4 separate regions of the Homo sapiens genome follow, and all the other regions are linked to region 2. The links come from fine-mapping of genetic effects on gene expression. A gene starts in region 2. Each other region holds a variant in brackets. All regions are shown on one strand. Distances are from middle to middle.

Evidence for each region. PIP is the estimated chance that this variant, and not a neighbour inherited with it, causes the effect. A credible set is the group of variants that fine-mapping cannot tell apart.
Region 1: its variant is the best candidate, but not a certain one, in a credible set for the expression of DHX34 in blood mononuclear cells (TOPMed, PIP 0.79).
Region 3: its variant is the best candidate, but not a certain one, in a credible set for the expression of DHX34 in whole blood (TOPMed, PIP 0.80).
Region 4: its variant is the best candidate, but not a certain one, in a credible set for the expression of DHX34 in monocytes after LPS (Fairfax 2014, PIP 0.68).

The regions. Positions count from the first base shown.
Region 1 is chr19:47,379,724-47,385,502 of GRCh38, reverse strand. DHX34 (DExH-box helicase 34) reads right to left here. Exons shown (of 17, transcript NM_014681.6): 14 at 5,518-5,779; 15 at 4,511-4,687; 16 at 4,179-4,317; 17 at 2,799-3,523. The coding sequence ends at 3,390. Among named protein-coding and RNA genes, the nearest start is that of DHX34, 33 kb to the right of the region's middle. The variant C/T (reference allele first, on the strand shown) is at 2,795.
Region 2 is chr19:47,346,631-47,352,409 of GRCh38, reverse strand. It overlaps DHX34 (DExH-box helicase 34), which reads right to left and starts at 3,095. Exons shown (of 17, transcript NM_014681.6): 1 at 3,058-3,095. C5AR2 (complement C5a receptor 2) reads right to left here. Exons shown (of 2, transcript NM_001271749.2): 2 at 5,081-5,779. RefSeq lists an enhancer at 2,351-3,255.
Region 3 is chr19:47,523,515-47,529,293 of GRCh38, reverse strand. It overlaps ZNF541 (zinc finger protein 541), which reads left to right. Exons shown (of 17, transcript NM_001277075.3): 14 at 256-344. Among named protein-coding and RNA genes, the nearest start is that of NAPA, 11 kb to the right of the region's middle. The variant G/A (reference allele first, on the strand shown) is at 3,015.
Region 4 is chr19:47,396,550-47,402,328 of GRCh38, reverse strand. No RefSeq gene overlaps it. Among named protein-coding and RNA genes, the nearest start is that of MEIS3, 20 kb to the left of the region's middle. RefSeq lists enhancers at 1-439, 3,504-4,171. The variant C/G (reference allele first, on the strand shown) is at 3,485.

The sequences.
Region 1 (5,779 bases), 33 kb before region 2:
GAGATTGCACCGTTGCACTCCAGCCTGGGCGACAAGAGCAAAACTCCATCTCAAAAAAAAAGAATATTGGACACTCCTGGGAGACGGAGGAGCTGGGCTGCAGCGGGTGGAGGGCTGCTGGTGTTTTATTTTTTTATCTGGGTGCTGCTGGCACAGGTATGTTTCATCTGGGAAAATTCACCAAGCTGTTTACTTATAATTTGTGCATGTTAGCCTTCAAGAGGAACATTTTAAAAGACTGTTGAGGCTGAGCGTGGTGGCTCATGCCTGTAATCTCAACATTTTTAGGAGGCTGAGGCGGGCAGATCACCTGAGGTCGGGAGTTCGAGACCAGCCTGACCAACATAGAGAAACCCCCGTCTCTACTAAAAATACAAAATTAGCTGGGTGTGGTGACACTCGCCTGTAATCCCAGGTACTTGGGAGGCTGAGGCAGGAGAACCACTTGAACCCGGGAGGCGGAGGTTGCAGTGAGCCGAGATTGAGCCATTGCACTCCAGCCTCAGCAACAAGAGCGAAACTCCGCCTCAAAAATAAATAAATTAAATAAATACTGTTGAATGAGCCGGGTGCAGTGGCTCACACCTGTAATCTCAGCATTTTGGGAAGCTGAGGTGGGCAGATCACCAAACACAAAATTTAGCCAGGTGTGGTGGTGCACGCTTATAGTCCCAGCTACTCGGGAGGCTGAGGTGGGAAGATCACTTGGTGTCAGAAGGCAGACATTGCAGTGAGCTGAGATTGTGCCACTGCACTCCAGCCTGGGCAACAGAGCAAGACCCCATCTCAAAGAAAAAAAGTATATAAACCCCTAGTTTTAGTTAGGGAGACGGATTTGAGACTGATTTCCCATCTCCTCAGCCACGCATCTGATTAAAGCCTTCTTCCTTGGAAAGAAAGGAAGCCCATGGTTCCAGACCAACCTGGGCATCATGGTGAAACTCTCTACAAAAAACAAACAAAAAAACCTATTCACACCCAAAAATTAGCTGGGCATGGTGGCACATGCCTGTAATCCCAGGTACTTGGGAGACTGATTTGGGAGGATCACTTGAGCCCAGGAGGTGGAGGCTGCAGTAAGCTGAGATTGCACCACTGCACTCCAGCCCGGGCAACAGAACGAGACCCTGCCTCAAAAAAAAAAAAAAAAAAAAAAAAAAAAAAAAAAAAAAAAAAACTGTTGAATGGAATCTGTTACCAAAAATCAGGGGTTCAGTCCAGGTCCTGCTGCTGGTCGCACAGAAAGCCAATCACTAAAGCGAGTATTGCCAAGAAGAAGGCTTTAATGAGATGTGCAGCCAAGGAGATGGGAAATGACTCTCAAATCCATCTCCCTGACTAAGACTAGGGGTTTATATACTTTTTTTCTTTGAGATGGGGTCTTGCTCTGTTGCCCAGGCTGGAGTGCAGTGGCACAATCTCAGCTCACTGCAATGTCTGCCTTCTGACACCAAGTGATCTTCCCACCTCAGCCTCCCGAGCAGCTGGGACTATAGGCGTGCACCACCACACCTGGCTAATTTTTGTGTTTTTTAATAGAGACAGGGTCTTGCTATGTTCCCCATCCCAGTCTGGAACTCCTGGACTCAACTGATCCACCCTTATCGGCCTCCCAAAGTGCTGGAATTACAGGCATGAACCACCATGCCCAACCTTTTTTTTTTTTTCTGTTTCTAATATGGTGAATCAGATTGATTTTCAAATGTTAAATCAACCTTCCATTCCTAGAATAAGCCCCAGTTGGCCATGATGTACTGTATTTATATATTGCTAAATATGATGTGCTGAACTCCTATTTAGGGTTTTTGTCTATGTTCATAAGGCTTAGAGTTTTCTTTTCTTGCATTGTCATAGCCTGCTTTTAGCAGCAGGATAATGCTGACCTCATAACATCAGTCAGGAGGCGTCCTCCCCTATGCTGTGGCCAAGTGGGTGTGGGCGAGTATCATTTCCATGTTTGGTAGACGTCACCAGGGAGCCCATCTGAGCCTGTTCTCTTTGTTAACTATGAATTACATTTCCTTAATAGAGTTGTTCCGGTTATCTATTTCTTCCTGAATGAGCTTTGGGTAGCTAGTGTCTTTCAATAATTTTTTCCATTTCAAATGAGTGAATTTCTGTGTGGCACGTTGTTTATCGTATTCTCTTCTCCTTTTCGCATCTGTAGGACCTACAGGTTGTCCTCCTTCCATTCCTATGCCGTGCCTTCTTTTTCTCCTGAGTGATTTTATTGTTCTTTTCATTTTCTTTTTTTCTTTTAGAGATGGAGTCTCGCTCTGTCACCCAGGCTGGAGTGCAGTGGCACGATCTCGGCTCACAAGCAACCTCCGCCTCCTGGGTTCTAGCAATTCTCCTGTCTCAGCCTCCTGAATAGCTGGGATTACAGGCACACGCTGCCACGCCCAGCTAATTTTTTGTATTTTAATAGAGATGGGGTTTCACCGTGTTGCCCAGGCTGGTCTCAAACTCCTGAGCTCAGGCAAACCACCTGCCTCAGCCTGATTTTTTTTTTTTTTTTTTTGAGATGGAGTTTCACTCTTGTCGCCCAGGCTGGAGTGCAATGGCATGATCTCAGCTCATTGCAACCTCTGCCTCCCAGGTTCAAGTGATTCCCCTGCCTCAGCCTCCCCAGTAGCTGGGATTAAAGATGCCCACCACCACACCCAGCTAAGTTTTTGTATTTCTAGTAGAGACAGGGTTTCACTATGTTGGCCAGGCTGGTCTCGAACTCCTGACCTCAGGCGATCCACCCGCCTCAGCCTCCCAAAGTGCTGGGATTACGGGAGTGAGCAAC[C/T]ATGCCCGGCTCAGCCTGTTCTTTTATTTTTTTATTACGGGAGTGAGCAACCATGCCCGGCTCGGCCTTTTATTTTTTTATTGTGAGTGGGTCTTATGGTGCAGCCTGTGGTCCCACGTGAACACCAGTGCTCCCAGCCCCCCTGCACAACTCTCAAAGTGACCCAGGTGGATGGGCAAATTCAGGGTCCCCCTACTTCAAGGGGTAGGAGAGACTGAGGATGGACTCAAGAGAGAGCGGCTGCGGAGGTGCTAAGAACCTGCACCTGGAATCTGGAGACATGGGAGGTCCCTGCTGGCTCTAACGCCCCTCCTACCCAGGACCCCTCAGGCAGCACCCTGCAGCAGGAAGAAGGAAAGCTAGACCCTGGGGAGGACTAACAAGGCAGCTGCTGCTTTCTGGATGGGCAGGTGCAGGCCTAACAGTGTGTATCAGCATGTGAGGCTTTATTCACAATCCGTGCTCCAGGCCCTCTGCACTGGGACAGGACCACAGGGCTAAGCCCAGGCTGGGGGTTCAGGCAAGAGTCCTGCCCCTAGTCCTGGGCTGGAGGGCAGGTCAGCTGCACGGAGGTGGGCAGGGCTCCTGGCCCAGCTCACACGTGCTGCTTCCGGTGGCGCAGCACCTCTGTGGGTGTAAAGAGGAAGTCCTTCCCGCAGGCCTCGCAGTGGTAGGGCCTCTGCAGGACAGATGTCTTCTGGAGGGTTTCGAGGGCAGCTTCCTCAGCCCCTAAGGGAGGAAAAGGAGGAGGCTGTGAGGGGCGTGTTCCAGTGCACAGGTCTACCTGCACCCAAATGCCAGGCACCTGTGGGGCTCAGGTTCTCTCCTGGCCTTTGGAGAACCCAGTTTTGCCTCCTCCAGGAAGCCCTCCCAGATTAATAAAAATACACAGGTCTGTCTTTACTCCGCATCCCTGCCAGTGAGAGAGACAGAGAGAAAGACACAAGGAGAGACATGGAGACTGAGAGGCAGACACAGCCAGCCGGGGATGGAGGCATGTGGCCCCAGTGCTATCTCCCCCACTGAACCCCAGTGTGTGGCATCCCTGGGTGACAACAGGGTGGAGGTGACCAAGGCAGAGATAGCTGCAGGACAGAGAAAAATAACAAGAGACATAGCCACAGAGAGACAGAAACAGAGACAAAGACAGCAACACAGAGACACCACAGGGGACAGGCAGACAGAAAGAGGTGGCGCTCCAGGCTCTCCCTGCCTTGGGCTCCTGATCTTCAGGACAAGGCCTGTGTGTGGCACCAGCCAGGGCCAGCGGGTGGAGGTCGTCAGTCCTCGAAGCTCTAGCAAGTGCTCACACGCACAGGAGACCATCATGGGATGGGCAGACGGCTGGGCAGAGGTGGCCGGGTCCCCACAGTCCTGTGCTTACCTGGGGGCCCATCCTGTGGGGCCTGGGGGCAGGTGTTCTCATGGGCGATGCGCTCCAGGGGCGTGAGGGGCGCATGCAGGCCACAGTGGGGGCAGGTCCAGAAGGTTCGGAGACAGTCGCTGTACAGGTCTGTGTCATTCTGTGGCAGGCCAGCTGTCAGGGCTGGGCCCCCGCCAAGTGCCACCCACCACCCAAGTGCCCCCCCGGGACCCTTCCCAGAAGCCCTCAGGGCCACGGGCCCCACTTGGGAACTATGTCCCTGGACTAAGGTGAAACGGGGTGGTGGGGTCTTCCTGAAATCCCACCTTCAGGGAAGGAGGGTTCATGCTTACCGTGAGGCAGTTGTAGGTGAGGAAGTCAGTGACTGCGTAGCCCCCCTTTGTGGGGTGGGGGGACAGGGTGGAGCTGCCAAAGAGGCCAGGAAGATGGGGGGTGGCTGGGATGGTCTGGGGTCCCACATACATGTTCTGGACTTCTAGCCCTGTGAGCCGCCGGAGGCTGTAAGGAATCTAAGGAAGGAGAGACAGGAAATGGAGAGAGACAGACTCAGGGAGATGCCGCCAAAGCACCTGGATCCAGCTGTGCCTGAAGCCCTCCCTCGGGCTTTGCAGTTACGGGAGCCAAGTGCTTACACCAATCACAATTTGGCTGCAGACACACATGACCAGGGGTCTGTCTAGAATATACCTGATAACCCACCCCCATCTAAATTGCCCTCCCCAGGCCCCTCTTCTGCCCCTGTCACTGGTGGGACCCCATTCAGACCTTGAGTCTAACCTTCAAGTCTGGCCACCTCCCCCCTCCTCCTCCTAGCATGTCAGCCTTGGTCCCCTCTCCATGGCTCACTGGGTTCCTGCTCCTTTGTCCTCAAGCCCTTCTACTCCAGGAAGTCAGCCTGGATTGTACCCTTCTCCCCACCCCACCCACATGAAGTAGAACCACGAGCAATTTCCACTCCCCACCTAAGAGTCAGGGGCTGGTTTCAAGTCTGCTCAGTTCAGTTCTTCCCATCCACAAGCAGACGTCTACGGCTTCCCTCTCACACCCTGCCTGTCCTTTACTGTTAGCAAGAGGGGATCAGCCACGCTTGCAGAAGGTGCTTAGTAAACAAGGCAGCAGTGGGTAGTGTGGCCTCTGGAACCAGGCTCCTGGGATCAAATCCTAGCTCCACCCAGACCAGTGGAGTGACCTTGTGTAAGTGACTGAACCTCTGTGGCCTGAAAACCCCCAAATGTGCCCATGTGGAGTGAATGGGAAGCCAGGCCTTCCCGAGGCTCAAGCCCAGTGACGGATGCCCCTTCTGGCCATAGGGAGGCACGGGCACCCTGGTGGAGGGTACCTTGGATGCCGTGAATTGCAGGAGTTCCTTGCTCAGGGTGGCCACCTCCTTGGGGCTGACTGGCGTATCCTCCTCCTCCTCCTCCAGCTGCTGCTGGGCCTGGTGCGCCAGCTGCCGGTCCAGGGCACTTTCCCAGCGGGCACGGAGCCGCAGGGAAGCCGCCAGGAGTCGGATGGCACTTTCACTGTCTGCTAGCTGCAGCTCCAGCCAGCCATCGGCCACCAGGCGGGAGCAGTCACCATTGGTGTCCAAAGACCGGCTA
Region 2 (5,779 bases):
GCCACCATGCCCAGCCCATTTTTAGAAACATTTCTAACAGCCTGTTTCTTAAGCACTGAACTAGAAAAAGGAGGTAATGAATATGACTACCAGAGTCCTCACAGACGGCCATGATCACATGATCTCTCATGTGACACACACGTCATCAGACTGTGACAATCCAGTGATGGGGACTGTGATAACAGAATCCTAGGGAGCTGTGGGACACCAAAGGAGGTTCCTCCTCCTTCCCATGCTTGGGAATCAGGGAAGGATCCTGGGAGGAGGGGATGTTTCACCTGAGACCTAAAGGAGAGATGTAGGTCACATGGCCAACCAACAGCAGAACCTTGTCTCCACAGGCAGTAATAGGAGAGAGGTGTGATATAATGAAAAGAATAAGGCAAGGGTTCTTCACCCGGGGTCCAGTGAGATTCAGAACATTGAGATAAAAGGCAAAATTTTGCAAGTGTTATATGTAATTTTTGCCTGCCTGGCACAACCCTTTACTTCTTTTCTGAGGACAGTATCCACCTTCCTTTGGACAACAGCCCTTCCTCGATTCTACATGGTTCTGAGGGCCTTTAAGACAAAGAACCCCTATTGGGTAGGCAAGTAACAAAGACCTGGCCAGTCTTAGTAGTCTACTCCCCCTCTAACCAAGGATTGGCCTGAGAAGCGGACACATGATCCAAGAAGGGCCAATCAGGGCCCTTTTGTGGAATTTACACTCGGTTGCTAGGACAGAAAAGCTCTCATTTTATCCATCATAATCAGGCAAGTTTGATATAAGCCTGGAGCTCTTTGTGGTAGCTCTGGAACATGACAGAGTCTTTCCTAAAATCTATCCTAGAGAAATAACTAGATACAGGCACAAGAATGGTCACTGCACCACAGGGAGAGGTGAAAGAGGGAGAGGAAGAGAAGCTTGGCAACATCATTTAGGTCTTGAAGCTTAGTTCCCTTCAACCCCCCACTTCTCAGCTACACCAGAAAATGCCTTTTTGCTTACAGTTGGAGTCTTTTTTGTTTTGAGATGGAGTCTTGCTCTGTCACCCAGGCTGGAGAAAAAAAATTAGCCAGGTGTGGTGGCGGGCACCTGGCTACTCGGGTAGTCCCAGCGACTCGGGAGGCTGAGGCAGGAGAATCACTCGAACCCTGGAGGCAGAGCTTGCAGGAAGCCAAGACTGAGCCACTGCACTCCAGCCTGGGCAACAGAGCGAGACTCTGTCTCAAAAAAAAAAAAAAAAAAAAAAAAAGAAAAAGAAAATGAGAGCATTCTTCTGAGGCTAGAAACTGCTTATGCATGCTGGGCCCCACTGACAGCATCCCGCTCCTCTCAAGGTATCTATCTTTTTTGGCTTCTAGATTGTCTGCATCTTCTAGTTTCTGTATAACTGTGTCTCTGACCATCTTTTGGTCTCTTGGCCTATTTGCCCTGGGCTCATGGCCTTCAGTGGGTTTGTTTCCCCCTCTGTCCCCTCCATCTCTCTCCACTCCATCTTCAGGCCTCTGTCTCTTTTTCAGTCCGTCTTGTTCATCATCACCCTCATCTCTCTTCCCTGTCCTAGTCAGCTCGCATCTCTCTTCACTTATGAGTCATTCTGTAGTCTGATTTTTCTCTGTAATCCAACTCTTCCTTTCTCCATCTCTCTTCAGTTCTCCATTTGACTTTCTCCATCTTTCTCATTAAAAAAAAAATGCTTTTTCAGGCCGGGCATGGTGGCTCACGCCTATAATCCCAGCACTTTGGGAGGCTGAGGCAGGCAGATCACCTGAGGTCGGGAGTGCGAGACCAGCCTGACGAACATGGAAAAATCCCGTCTCTACTAAAAATACAAAATTAGCCAGGGTGGTGGCACCTGCCTGTAATCCCAGCTACTCTGGAGGCTGAGGCAGGAGACTCGCTTGAACCCAGGAGGCAGAGGTTGCAGTGAGCCAAGATCGCACCACTGCACTCCAGCCTGGGCAACAAGAGCGAAACTCCATCTCAAAAAAAAAAAAAAAAAATTCATTTTTGTTTTTTTGAAACAGGGTCTCACTCTGTCACCCAGCCTGAAGTGCAGTGGCACAATCACGGCGTACAGCAGCCTCGACCTCCCAAGCTCAAGTGATCCTCCCACCGCAGCCTCCCAAAGTGCTGTGGATGACAGGAGTGAGTCACCACGCCCTTTCTCATTTTCTGTTTGAATCTTTTTTTCCTCCCTTTTGTCCTTCCAGTATTCACTCTCCATCACCACCTCTCTCCATTTCCCCATCTAATACTTTATCTCCCAATATCAGAAGCTTTAGTAATAGCTCATGCTTACTTACTCACATTAACACACAGACCTATCCTATCTGCATGATCTATTCCTATCCCACACCTATGTACATACACACACACACTTTTCTCACGACTGTCAGGCACTATGATCACCCCCTATTTTACTGAGCAATAGAGAGGCTAAGTGAGTAGCCGAGTGTTACATGAGCCACTCAAATCCAGGGGTTCGGGCTCCACTCCCTCGCTTTTCCATTTCTCAGCATCGTTCTCCATTATCTCCAGCTTTTGTGGGGTTCTTCCTATTTCAACTGTCTCCATCCTTCCGTATCTCTCGGTCTCCCCCGTGATTCAGTGTCTCGTTTCTCCATCTAAATTCCATTTTTTCTGTTTCTAGTGTCCACGATCAGTTTCCGACTTTTCCCTCCACTCCCCAAGTTCATGGGCGACCACGCCTCTCGGCCTCGTGGGCTCTAAGACTCTCGCTGGAACCCATCGGCACTCTCGCCCACGCTCTCTAGTTTTCAGCTTCCCTCCTCTCCCAACACCCTCGTCTTTCAGTCCCTCAGTTTCTCGAAGCTTCTTTTCGTGCCTCCATTTCTTTCGGTCTCTGGCCTGTCGCCCAGGTTCTCCCAGGGACGCTCAGGTGCCATCTCTGTCCGCGTTTGCCGGCCCTTCGGCTGCCTCCTACATTTCTCCTCATCTCGAGACTTCCCTCGCCCCTGGACTCGCACCCCAAACTACCCCCAAGCGGCCCAACTCCGACAGCCATCGCCGCCACAACCCGGTACACCCGTCCCGCCCCCCTCACTTACCACACGCCGCGAACGCCTTAACTTCCGGTCCCAAGAGCGCTAGTCTTGCGCCTGCGCACACAGCCATCTCGTTCTGACCCCGCCCCGCCACCACAGAAGAGCCAATCGGAAGCTCTGGGCTGCCCAAGACCCATCTTGCGCCTGTGCACAGCACGCTTCCGCCCCGCCTCGCTTGGGGCGGAGCCTCGAGTGATTGCGCCCTCTAGAGGCCAGTAGAGGCATTGCGGTACAGACTTGCAAGCGCCTCCTCCCCGGCCCCGCCCTCTCCTCCCCAAGCATAGCCACGTGCGCCTCAGCTCCGGGACGCCGGGGTTTTAACCCAAAGAGAGAGCTGGTCTGGGGCCCAGGAACTTTTTTTTTTCTTTTGAGACATAGTCTCACTGTCTCCCAGGCTAGAGTGCAGTGGCGTTATCTCACCTCATTGCAATCTCCGCCTCCCAAGTTCAAACCATTCTCCTGCCTCAGCCTCTCGAGTAGCTGGGATTACAGGCGCACACCACTACACCTGGCTGATTTTTGTATTTTTAGTAGAGACGAGGTTTCACGATTTGGGCCAGGCTGGTCTCCAGCTCCTGATCTCAAGTGATCCGCCCGCCTTGGCCTCCCAAAGCACTGAGATTACAGATGTGGGGCATCTCACTCAGCCTCTACCTCTTTTCTTTCTACAACCCCATTTTCTGTTACCTTTCTCTGCAATAAACTCAATCACACACATTCAGGAAGACCCCCAAGTATAGAAACAATCTCATTAGCCAGCAATGCACCCTCTCTTTTATTAACTGAAAGAAGAAACAGCTGGGCACGGCGGCTCACGCCTGTAATCCCAACAGTTTGAGAGGCCGGGGTAGGTGGATCACCTGAGGTCAGGCGTTCCACACCAGCCTGGGCAATATGGCCAACCCCTGTTTCTACAAAAAAATACAAAAGTTAGTCGGATATGGTAGTGTGTGCCTGTAGTCCCAGCTACTCAAGAGGCTGAGGTGGGAGGATCGATTGAACCTAGGAGGCTGAGAGACTGAGGCTGCAGTGAGCCATGATGGTACCACCGCACTCCAGCCTGGGTGACAGAGCCAGACTGTCTCAAAAAAAGAAAAAAGTGTTGTTGTTTTTTTTTTCTGAGACGGAGTCTCGCTGTCGCCCAGGTTGGAGTGCGGTGGCGCGATCTCGGCCCACTGCAGGCTCCGCCTCCCAGGTTCCCGCCATTCTCCTGCCTGAGCCTCCCGCATAGCTGGGACTACAGGCGCCCGCCACCACGCCCGGCTAATTTTTTGTATTTTTAGTAGAGACGGGGTTTCACTGTGTTAGCCAGGATGGTCTCGATCTCCTGACCTCGTGATCCGCCCACCTCGGCCTCCCAAAGTGCTGGGATTACAGGCATGAGCCACCGTGCCTGGCCAGAAAAAAGTTCTATGTCTAAAAAAAAGAAGGACTCTAAAGTTTTTGGCCTGAGCATTTGGAAATATGGAGTCACCATCTACTACCATCAGGAAGACGTGGGAGAGAGGCTAGAGAGAAAATCCGAAGATCTGTTTTCAGCATATTGTTTGAGTTATGCATTGGACATCAACTGGGGATGTCAAGTGGAACGTTGGATATAATTATCAAGCCTCTGGAAAACAACTTAGAGATAGAGAAGCCAATTCATACATTATTATCAAAAGAAGAAGAATAAATGGACTAAGCATTCTGCTTAAAATTTCCAAACAAGGCCAGGTGCGGTGGCTCACGCCTGTAATCCCAGCACTTTGGGAGGCCGAGGCAGGTGGATTACCTGAGGTCAGGAGTTCGAGACCAGCTAAGCCAACATGATGAAATCCCGTCTCTACTAAAAATATAAAAAATTAGCCAGGCATGATGACGGACACCTGTAATCCCAGCTTCTCGGGAGGCTGAGGCAAGAGAATCGCTTGAACCCAGGAGGTGGAGGTTGCAGTGAGCCAACATCGCATCATTGCACTCTAGCCTGGGCGACAAGGAGAAACTCTGTCTCAAATAAACAAACAAACAAATAAATAAATAAATAAATAATCCAAACAATAATTATAATTTTTAAAAAAGGAAAATTGGAGGAAATGAACAACAAATGGAAATCAACAAGAAAGCCACAGTCTATCAACCATAGGATTGTATAGCAAGCTTGAGACTAGTTCTTAGAGAAATTATTAATAACTTGGTTCTTTGAAAACTTAAGGAAATCAATATTTCTATGGTAAAAAAACAAATAGCAGAAATAGACAAACTTTAGAACAAAAAAGGGAAGTTATAGCAAAACAGATGGCTTTTAATAATCAAAGGTATTTTATGTAACATTGCACAGACTTAAATTTGAAAATTCCCGTGAAATGTATTCCAGTTCAAAAAAGAAGGGCTAATGATCTACAAAATGAAAACATTTCAAAAACCACAAAAGATGTTTTGTAAAAGTTATCAAAGAATGCTCCTAAGTGGCAACTGGTCCCAATAGATTAATGGGAGGATTTTGCAAACTTTAAGCCCCAAAGCGGGGTTTTAGCCCACGAGGGTTCTTGGCTTTGCCCAGAAAAGAATTCAAAGGTGAGCAGGGGCAAGGCAGGGGAAAACAGCTTGCTTTCTTTCCTTCCTTCTTTCTGTCTTTGTGTCTTTCCTTCTTTCTTACTATTTTTTTTTTTTAGACGGAGTCTTGCTCTGTCACCCAGGCTGGAGTGCAGTGGTGTGATCTCGGCTCACTGCAAGCTCCGCCTCC
Region 3 (5,779 bases), 180 kb before region 2:
CCCATCAGCTCTGGAAACAGGATGCCAGGGCCCCCACCTGCCTTTAGCAAGCGACTGAAGCCTCAGTTGCCACATCTGTTAAGTGGGGCTAGTAGTGGTCCCTCCCTTCTGGAGACTTTTTGAGTTTTTTATGAGATTGGCACATAATTGGTACTCAGTAATGGCAGCTATAAATGGGAAGGTGGTCTGCATTTCAGCCATGGCTGTGGTCCCAGGACAAATGGCCTTCCCCCTGTTGGCTGTGTTCTTTGATAGGTTCAGACGTCTGGACCCCTATAGAGAAGAGGCTTTTTAAGAAGGCGTTCTATGCCCACAAGAAGGACTTCTACTTGATACACAAGATGGTAAAGTGAATGTGGGCTGGTGTCCAAGGCCCTGCCTCACACAGCTGAGACAAGCTAGAGCTGCAGGGCTGGTCGGGGGTCGGAGGGCCCCACCCTCACCTGCCTGTGGCAGCACTCTTACTGTAGACAGTTTACAATGTCAAAAAGCTATCCTCATGAACAGCTCCAGATGGTACAGACCTGCATCACCTGCACAGAACAGTCTTCCATGCCCCTCCCCGCAGTCCTACTTCTGCTTGGCAACCTCTGTTACCTATTCCACCAAGCAACAGGCATTTCTGTCTGTACAAATTTTATATATATAGGTATGCATGTACTTTAAAAAAGATAAGGGCCGGCCATGGTGGCTTACGCCTGTAATCCCAACACTTTGGGAGGCCAAAGGCGGGAGGATCACTTGAGATCAGGAGTTCAAGACCAGCCTGGCCAACATGGTGAAACCCTGTCTCTACTAAAAATACAAAAATTAGCCGGGCATGGTGGTGAGTGCCTGTAATCCCAACTAGTTAGGAGGCTGAGGCATGAGAATCGTTTGAACCCGGGAGGCAGAGTTGCAGTGAGTGGGGATTGTGCCACTGCACTCCAGGCTGGGCAACAGAGTAGGACTCTGTCTCTTTTTTTTTTTTTTTTTTTTGAGACGGAGTTTTGCTCTTGTTGCTCAGGGTGGAGTGCAGTGGCGCAATCTTGGCTCACCGCAACCTCCGCCTCCCGGGTTCAAGCGATTCTCCTGCCTCAGCCTTCCGAGTAGCTGGGATTACAGGCATGCGCCACCATGCCCAGCTAATTTTGTATTTTTTAGTAGAGATGGGGTTTCTCCATGTTGGTCAGGCTAGTCTCGAACCCCCGACCTCAGGTGATCCACCTGCCTCAGCCTCCCAAAGTGCTGGGATTACAGGCGTGAGCCACGGCGCCCGGCCCAGGACTCTGTCTCAAAAAAAAAAAAAAAAAAAGGGCCTGGCGTGGTGGTTTATGCCTGTAATCCCAGCACTTTGGGAGGCCGAGGCATGTGGATCACCTGAGGTTGGGAGTTCGAGACCAGCCTGACCAACATGGAGAAACCCTGTCTCTACTAAAAATACAAAATTAGCTGGGCATGGTGGCACATGCCTGTAATCCCAGCTACTCGGGAGGCTGAGACAGGAGAATCGCTTGAACCCGGGAAGCGGAGGTTGCGGTGAGCCAAGATCTCGCCACTGCACTCCAGCCTGGACAACAAGAGTGAAACTCCGTCTCAAAAAAAGAAAAAAAGGATGAGGTCAGGCGCAGTGGCTCACGCCTGTAATCCTAGCACTTTGGGAGGCCAAGGTGGGAGGATTGCTTGAGGCTAGGAGTTCAAGACCAGCCTGGGCAATATAGTGAGACCTTGTCTCTACAAAAAAGTTAAAAACTAGCCTAGCATGGTGCCGCGTGCTTGTGGTCCCAGCTACTCGGGAGGCTGAGGTGGGAGGATTGCTTGAGCATAGGAGGTGAAGGCTGCAATGAGCCAAGATTGCACCACTGCACTCCAGCCTGGGTGACAAGATGAGACTCTCACCACCCCGAAAAAAGCCAAAGGATGAGATCTCACTGCATATAATGTCCTGCTGCTTATTTTCTGTTCTAAAAAAAAAATTGGATGTATACAAAATTGCACATAATTGCAGTATAATAAGATTTGCTAAGTTTTGACATATTGATACTATACCTGGGAAACCATCACCACAGTCAAGATAATGAGCATGTCCCTCAGCCCTGAATCTCCTCCTGCCACATAGTAATCACTCCCCATTGCACCCCCTGTCCTCAGTCAGCACTGATCTGCCAGGGCACTGTAAATTCGTTTTCATTTCCTAGAGTTTGCTATAAATGGAGTAGTCACACAGTATGGACTCTACTTGGTCCAGCTTTCTCACACTCAGCATCATGATTTTGAGTTCATCCATGTTCCAGGTATTGATAGGTCTCCCCTTTTCACTGCTGAATAGTATTCCACTGGGTGGATGTACCACGGTTTAAAGAATCATTTGCCTGTTGGTGGACATTTGAGTGGTTTCCAGTTTGGGATGACTATAAATAAATTCGTTATGAACATTCAGGTACCAGTCTTGGTATGGACATGTACTTTGTTTTCTAGAGGAGTAAATACCAGGAATGGAATGACTTAGTAGGTGTATGCTTAACTTTTTAAGAAACCGCCAAACAATTTTCCAAAGTAGTTGTATCATTTCACATTCCTACCGGCAGGAAAAGAGATTTCTAGTTGCTCCACAAACTCGCTAGCCCTGGGTAGGGCCAGTCCTTTTAATTCCAGCCATTCTCATGACAGTGTGGTGGCATCGCATTGTGTTTCCTTCACAACTGACGATGCTGAGCATCTTTTCATGGGCCTGTTTGCTGTCTGTATGCCTTATTTGGTGAGGTGTCTGTTCATATCTCTTGCATATGTTTTTATTGAGATGTCTGTGTTTTCTTTTTTTTTTTTTTTTTTTGAGATGGAGTCTCACTCTGTTGCCCAGGCTGGAATGCAGTGGCGCAATCCATGCTCACTGCAACCTCTGCCTCCCAGGTTCAAGCGATGCTCCTGCCTTAGCTTCCTGAGTAGCTGGGATTACAGGCGCCTGCTACCACGCCTGGCTAATTTTTGTATTTTTAGTAGGGACGGGGTTTTGCTATGTTGACCAGGCTGGTCTC[G/A]AACTCCCAACCTCAGGTGATCTGCCCACCTTGGCCTCCCAAAGTGCTGGGATTACAGGCGTGAGCCACCGCGCCCAGCCGGCTGTGTTTTTATTATTGAGTTACAGCAGTTCTTTATTGATTCAGGACACGTCATTTATCCAGATCCATGCTTTGTGAATGTTTTCTCCCAATCTGTAGCTTTTTAATCTCTTAACAATGTCTTTTAAAGAAAAATTTTGTCATTTTGATGAAGTCATTTATTAATTTTTCTTTTATGGACTGTGCTTTTGGTGTTGTATCTAAGAATTCTTTGCCTAACCCAACCACAAAGATTTTCCCCTTGTTTTCTCTAGAAGTTTTTTTTTTTTTTTTTTTTTTTTGTGAGACGGAGTCTCGCTCTGTCGCCCAGACTGGAGTGCAGTGGCGAGATCTTGGCTCACTGCAAGCTACGCCTTCCAGGTTCATGCCATTCTCCTGCCTCAGCCTCCCGAGTAGCTGCGACTACAGGCACATGCCACCACCATGCCCGCCTAATTTTTTGTATTTTTAGTAGAGACGGGGTTTCACCGTGTTAACCAGGATGGTCTCTATCTCCTGACCTCGTGATCTGCCCGCCTCGGCCTCCCAAAGTGCTGGGATTACAGGCGTGAGCCACCTTGCCCGGCCTTCTCTAGAAGTTTTATAGTTTTAGGTTTTACAATTAGGTTTACAATTCAGTTTGTGTTAATTTTTGTATATGGTGTAAAGTATGAGTTAAAGTTCATTTTTTGCATGTGGATATTCATTTGTACCTTTTGTTGAAAAGACAAAAAAATGTAATACCATACTGTTTTTACTACTGTAGCTTTCTAAGTCTTAAGATCATGTATTACCATATGAACTTTCTAAGTAGCTTATCCATTTTTACCAAAAAAAACAAAACAAAACAAAACAAAAAACCTGCTAGGATTTTGATTGGTACTGCATTGGCTCTATAGGCCAATTGAGGAGAGTTGACTTTTTTTTTTTTTTGGAGACAGAGTTTCACTCTCGTTGCCCAGGCTGGAGTGCAGTGGCGCGCTCTTCACTCACTGCAACGTCCACCTCCCGGGTTCAAGCGATTCTCGTACCTCAGCCTCCCGAGTAGCTGGGATTACAGGTGCGCACAACCACACCTGGCTAATTTTTGTATTTTTAGTAGAGACAGGGTTTCACCATGTTGGCCAGGCTGATCTTGAACTCCTGACCTCAGGTGATCTACCTGCCTCAGCCTCCCAAAGTGCTGGGATTACAGGCGTGAGCCACCGCACCCAGCCAAGGAGAGTTGACATTCTAACAACATTCAGTTTCTGACTCATGAACAGGGGCTGTGTCTCTATGCATCATCTTTAATTTCTCTTAGCAGTGTTTTGAAGGTTTTACTGGTTCTTATTTCTTTTAAGATCTAGGATCTCACTCTGTCGCCCAAGCTGGAGTACAGGGGTGTGATCATAGTTCACTGCACCCTTTGACCTCCTGGGCTCAAGTGATCCTCCAACTTTGAGTAGCTGGGACTACAGGTGTGTGCAATCACACCTAGCTCTGGTATAACTCTTTTTTTTTTTTTTTTTTTAGACAGAGTCTCGCTATGTCACCCAGTCTGGAGTGCAGTGGTACGATCTCAGCTCACTGTAACCTCCACCTCCTGGGTTCAAGCGATTCTGCTGCCTCAGCCTCCTGAGTAGCTGGGATTACAGGTGCGTGCCACCACACCCGGCTAAATTTTTTGTATTTTTAGTAGAGATGGGGTTTCCCCATGTTGGCCAGGGTGGTCTCAAACTCCTGACCTCAGGTGATCCTCCTGCCTCGGCCTCCCAAAGTGCTGGGATTTCAAGTGAGCCACCGCGCCTGGCCTCTGGCATAACTCTTTGAACATATATTAAACAGTTATGGTAACCTTTCATGTCCTTCCCTGCTCATTCTAACACCTGTGTCTCTGGTGGGTTGACTTTGATACATTGGGTTTTCTCCTCCTGATGTGCCGTGTTATCCTGCGTCTTTGCGTGCATGGTGATTTTCACCAGATCACGGGCATTGTGAATGTTAGCTGTTGGATGCTGGATATTTTTGCAGCCTTGTAAATATTCTTGAGTTTTGTTCTGGGACACAGTTACTTTTAGGTTCAGTTTTAGATTTTTTAGATGGGACCAGCATAGCTCTTCTCTAAGGCTGATTATTTCTCCTTACTGAGGCAAGACTGTGTCACTGCCCTACCCAGTGCCCCCTGCATCATAAAATTTCCCACTCTGGCTGTGGGAACGGGCACTCTTCCTGGCCCTGTAGGAGCAGCACACACTTTCCCCTCTCATCCTTTTGGATGGCTCTTTGCCCAGCTTTGGCTGGTCTCTTCCCATGCATGTGCTGGGCAGTCTTTGGGTGAGTTCTTGGGGGAAATTTGCTCCCCATCTCTGGAATGTTCTGTGTGTAGCTCTCTCCTCTCCCATCCTCTGTCCTGTGGGCTCTACCGCCGTGGTCTCCGGAGGCACTGTGCTCCACCTCAGCTCCCTAAGTCCTGCTGGGTTCTGCCTAAATTGCCCCTGCCTGGGTGGTGGCCTGGAAACACAAGTTGATAAGCTGGAGCGGTGGCAGCTTGCTTCCTGTCAGGGTTCACTGCCCTTTGTTGAATGACGCCTGGTGTCTTGCCAAACATTGTTTATATTTTGACTCTGTGTTTTCATTGTTTTGGACGAGAGGGTAAATCTGGTTCTGTTGCTCCATCTTGTTCAGAAGCAGAAGTCCAACTTTTTTTTAAACTTAGTGATGTC
Region 4 (5,779 bases), 50 kb before region 2:
CCACCCCCCAGAGAGAGAGACCACCAAGGCAGAGTGTGGATCGCTCCCCTGTTTGGCTCTGTCTCTCTCCCTCTGGTACCTTTTTTTTTTTTTTTTTTTTTTTTTTTTGAGAGGGAGTCTCACTTTCTTGCCCACACCAGGCTGGAGTGCAATGCTGGGATCTCAGCTCACTGCAACCTCCACCTCCTGGGTTCAAGCGATTCTCCTGCCTCAGCCCCCTGAGTAGCTGGGATTACAGGCATGCGCTACCACGCCCGGCTACTTTTTGTATTTTTAGTAGAGACGGAGTTTCACCATGTTGGCCTGGCTGGTCTTGAACTCCTGACCTCAGGTGATCCACCCACCTCCACTTCCCAAAGTGCTGGGGTTACAGGTATGAGCCACCGCGCCCAGCCATTCTTTCTGTCTCTGTCTTGTTCAGACCTTGTCTCTCTCTGTCCCCTTCCCCACTGGAAACCCACATCTTCGGGGCCTCCCCCTCCCTTCTCCTTCAGAGGCCAGGTGAGCTCTTTCCTTCAGACCCGGGCTGCTTCGTCTTGGCTCACTGCCTTCCAGTCCCCTCTCCCAAGTGCCCCTCAGCCCCTCCGCCATCCAAGCGCCCCCTTTGCCATCCTCTCCCCAGAGCCATCCTTGGACCTCTGAGTCTCTCGGGCACCCCCAACCACGTACACTGCTGCTCTGTGCTCAAGGCCCAAGGGGCACGTGTGTGGGTTTTTGAAGGACCCCGTGAAAAATGTGTTCCTGGACCCCCGGAGTCCCTTTGGGGTGGGCCTGGATGGAGAGATTTGCACAGAGACACACATCGCTACAAACAGACACACATGCAAATACGCACATGCACACTCGGAAACATACACACACATAAAGGATGCACAGAAGATATGCCACACTCAGCCGGGCGCGGTGGCTCACGCCTGTAATCCCAGCACTTTGAGAGGCCGAGGTGGGAGGATCACTTGAGGTCAGGAGTTCAAGACCAGCCTGGCCAACATAGCGAAACCCCGTCTCTACTAAAATACAAAAAATTAGCCAGGTGTGGTGGCACATGCCTGTAATCCCAGCTACTCAGCAGGCTGAGGCAGGAGAATCACTTGAACCCAGGAGGTGGTAGAGGTTGCAGTGAGCTGAGATCATACCACTGCACTCCAGCCTGGACAACAGAGCGAGATTCCGTCCCCCTCTGCCCCCCGAAAAAAAGAAAGAAAATATCCGCTGAGCAGACGAGTGAATGAACAAAATCTTAGGATAGGCCAGGAGTGGTGGCTCACGCCTGTGATCCCAGCATTTTGGGAGGCAAATCACTTGAGGACACAGCCTGGGCAACATGGTGAAACCCCATCTCTACTGAAATATAAAAATTAGCCGGGCATGGTGGCGGGCGCCTGTAGTCCCAGCTACTTGGCAAACTGAAGCAGGAGAATCCCTTGAACCCAAAAGGTGGAGGTTGCAGTGAGCTGAGATCATGCCACTGCACTCCAGCCTGGGTGACAGAGCGAGACTCCATCTCAAAAAAGGAAGAAAGGGATGAGTGTCACAAAAAGCAGAACAGGCACAGGATGAGAGCATGGGCTGCCACTTTTATGACCTTATGGAGCCCTTCAGTAAGTGCTGTGTCCCAGGCTCTGTTCTAGGAGCCGTATACCTGGGAATCTGTTAAACCCTATGGCAGCCCCAGGAGGTGGGTGCCATCACGGTCCCCATTTCCCAGGTGAGGAAGCAGGACCAGAGAGGTGAAGTGGCTCATCCAAGGTCACACAGCTGGAGATTGTGAGGCTGGGCTCCATTTGAACCCAGGCAGCCTGGCTCCAGGGCCTGGACACTAACCACTGTGCTTCCAGCCTCTCTTTTCTTTTTTTTTTTTTGAGATGGAGTCTCACTGTCTCTCTCACCCAGGCTGGAGTGCAATGGTGTGATCTCAGCTCATTGCAACCTCCACCTCCCAGGTTCAAGTGATTCTTCCACATCAGCCTCCCGAGTAGCTGGAATTACAGACACCCACCATCATGCCCGGCTAATTTTTGTACTTTTGTAGAGATGGGGTTTCGCCATGTTGGCCAGGCTAGTCTCGAACTCCTGACCTCAGGTGATCCGCCGCCTCGGCCTCCCAAAGTGCTGGGATTACAGGCGTGAGCTGCCACGCCCGGCCCCAGCCTCTTTTTCTTAAAATAGAATTCTCTGAAATTCTAATTTTTATTTATTTATTTATTTAATTTTTTTGAGACAAGAGTCTCACTCTGTCGCCCAGGCTGGAATGCAGGGGTGTGATTTCAGCTCACCACAACCTCCTCCTTCCAGGTTCAAGCAATTCTGCTGCCTCAGCCTCCCAAGTAGCTTGGACTACAGGCATGCACCACCAGGCCTGGCTAATTTTTGTAATTTTTAGTGGAGACGGGGTTTTGCTGTGTTGGCCAGGCTGGTCTCGAACTCCTGACCTCAAGTGATCCACCTGCCTCGGCCTCCCAAAGTGCTGGGATTACAGATGTGAGCCACCGTGCCTGGCCTGATTTTTAATTTTTTAAATTGCTTTTGTTTTTGAGATAGGGTCTCCCTCTGTAATCACAGCTCATTGCAGCCTCAAACTCCAACACTCCAGCAATCCTCCTTCCTTAGCCTCCTCAGCAGCCGAGACTACAGGCACAAACCACCATGCCTGGCTAATTATTTATATTTGTTGGTAGAGATGGCTTTTCATGGTGTTCCCAGGCTGGTCTTGAACTCCTGGGTTCAAGCCGTCCAGCCGCCTCGGCCTCCCAAGATGCTGGGAATACTGGCGTGAGCTACCGCACCTGGCCTGATATTGTTTTCGTGACTATGATGAGAGTTTCTCTCTCCCAAAACTCCCCGGGACTCAGGTGGGATGGGTGATGGGTGGACAGCAGGAAGGACTTCAAACAATCACCCTCCCTTGATGGCAGGTGGGGGAAGGAATATGGGGGAGGGGCAGGGCCAGGCCAAGACTTTGAGGTCGGCTGAGAGGGGAGGCAGTTGCTTAGTGTATCCCCTGCCTGGTGCTGGGAAGGGGTCCCAGCGGCTGGTACACTGGGAAGTTGGGGAGGGGACAGCTCTCCTCTTCCCCTCCTCCCCCTTTTCCCAGAATCTGGAAATGCCTCTCATTAACTTAATCATCTCTAATTAAACCAATTGGATGTGCCTGGGGAGAAGGGAAATTGGGTGGGAGGTTAATTGTAACTAAAAATATCTCCCCCACTTCCTGAGAGGAGGAAGCAGCCACTGGACCTGCGTGTATGGTAGGTTGGCATCTCAGAGCAGGAGGGGCCCCTGGTTCAGGGGCATCCTGGGTCGTGGGGTGAGGACCCAGGGGATAGGCAGGCGGGGCTCGGGGGCTGCAGTTGGTGTGTGTCTGACCCCTGTGTGTCCTCTGGGCCTGTGGACTTGGAATGTGGTGGTCGAGGGCAGTGGTTGAGGGATGTCGGTGTGGCTGGAGGCACCGCCCGTGTCCTGTTGCTGAATGTGGTGTGTGTGT[C/G]TGTCGCTGAGTGGCGGTGTCCGTCACACGTGCCTTGGTATAGGTTGTGTGTCTCTGTGTAGGTTCCTGACTGTGACGATGAGACTTTTCATGCGCGTCCGTGTGAAGAGACCACCAAACAGGCTTTGTGTGAGCAATAAAGCTGTTTATTTCACCTGGGGGCAGGAGGGCTGAGTCCAAAAAGAGAGTCAGTGAAGGGAGATAAGGGCGGGGCTGTTTTACAGGATTTGGGTAGGTAAAGGAAAAAGGGGGGTTGTTCTCTGGTGGGCAGGAGTGGGGGGTCACAAGGTACTCAGTGGGGGAGCTTTTGAGCCAGGATGAGCCAGGAGAAGGAATTTCACAAGACAGTGACATCAGTTAAGGCAGGAACAGGCTATTTTCACTTCTTTTGTGGTGGAATGTCATCAGTTAAGGCCGGGTAGGGCATATTCACTTGTTTTGTGATTCTTCAGTTACTTCAGGCCACCTGGGCGTATACGTGCAAGTCACAGGGGATGCGATGGCTTGGCTTGGGCTCAGAGGCCTGACATTCATGCCTTCTTATATTAATAAGAAAAATAAAACAAAATAGTGTTGAAGTGTTGGGGCGGCGAAAATTTTTTTGGGGGGTGGTATGGAGAGAGAATGGGCGATTTCTCGGGGCTGCTTCAAGCGGGATTAGGGGCGGCGTGGGAACCTAGAGTGGGAGAGATTAAGCTGAAGGAAGATTTTGTGGTAAGGGGTGATATTGTGGGGTTGTTAGAAGAAACATTTGTCATTTAGAATTATTGGTGATGGCCTGGGTACAGTTTTGTATGAATTGAAAAACTAAATGGAATAAGAGAAGGAGAAAAACAGGTATAAAATGTCTAAGAATTGGGACGACTCAGGACATCTGATTAGAGAGTGCCTAAGGAGATTCAGCATAGTCCTGCCAGCAAAGATTATTTGTTTACTTCAGGAGTTAAGAGTGGCAGTTTGGGGATAGCACGAGGAGATATCAGCTGTGATGGCTTGGAGAAACAGTGTAAACCGGCAGTGTGAACAAGAGCAGGGCACGTATGAGTAGTTGAGAACGGAGAATAGGAGTATGACTAGACAGAAGATAGTAGGGATGACAAGTTTTTTGGGGGCACAGTCTAAGTTGGTCCGGTGTCTGGAATGAGACTGGGGCCTAATAAAAAGGATTGTCCATACAGGAGCTCAAATAGGCTGTACCCTGCAGCATTCTGAGAAGCGAAAGAGGTAAAAGTATTGTCCAGTCCTTTTTAAGTTGGCGGCTGAGCTTGGTGAGGTGTGTTTTTAAAAGACCTTTAGTCTGTTCTACTTTTCCTGAAGACGGAGGACCGTAAGGGATATAAAGGTTTCACTGAATACTAAGAGCCTGAAAAACTGCTTGGCTGATTTGACTAATAAAGGCTGGTCTGTTATCAGACTGTATAGAGGTGGGAAGGCTAAACTGAGGAATTATGTCTGACAGAAGGGAAGAAATGACTGCGGTGGCCTTCTCAGACCTTGTAGAAAAGGCCTGTACCTATCCAGTGAAAGTGTCTGCCTAGACTAAGAGGTATTTTGGTTTCCTGACTCGGGGCATGTTGAGTAAAGCTAATTTGCCAGTCCTGGGTGGGGGCAAATCCCTGAGCTTGATGTGTAGGGAAGGGAGGGGGCCTGAATAATCCCTGAGGAGTAGTAGAACAGCAGATGGAACACTGAGAAGTGATTTCCTTGAGGACAGATTTCCACGATGGAAAGAAAATGAGAGGTTCTAAGAGGCGGGCTAGTGGCTTGTACTATAGCATAGCCTGCCTTTGCTGGTGTGTGGCGATTAGGCCTGGTGGAACTGCCATCAGTAAATCAAGCGTGATCAGAGTGAGGAACAGGAAAGAAGGAAATATGGGGAAATGGGGTGAATATCAGGTGGATCAGAGAGATACAGTCATGGGGGTCAGGTGTGGTATCAGGAATAATGTGGGAGGCCAGATTGAAGTCCGGGCCAGGAACAATGGTAATTGTGGGACTTAAGAGTGAGTGCAGCTGAAGGAGCCGGGGAGCAGAAAGTACATGCGTCAGGTATGAGGAAGAAAATAGATTTTGGAAGTTATGAGAAATGTAGAGAGTGAGTTGAGCATAGTTTGTGATTTTTAGGGCCTCTAAAAGTATTAAAGCAGCGGCAGCCGCTGCACGCAGACATGAGGGCTAGGCTAAAACAGTAAGGTCAAGTTGTTTGGACAGAAAGGCTACAGGGTGCGGTCCTGGCTCTTGTGTAAGAATTCTGACCACACTAACCATGCCTAGGAAGGAAAGGAGTTGTTTTAT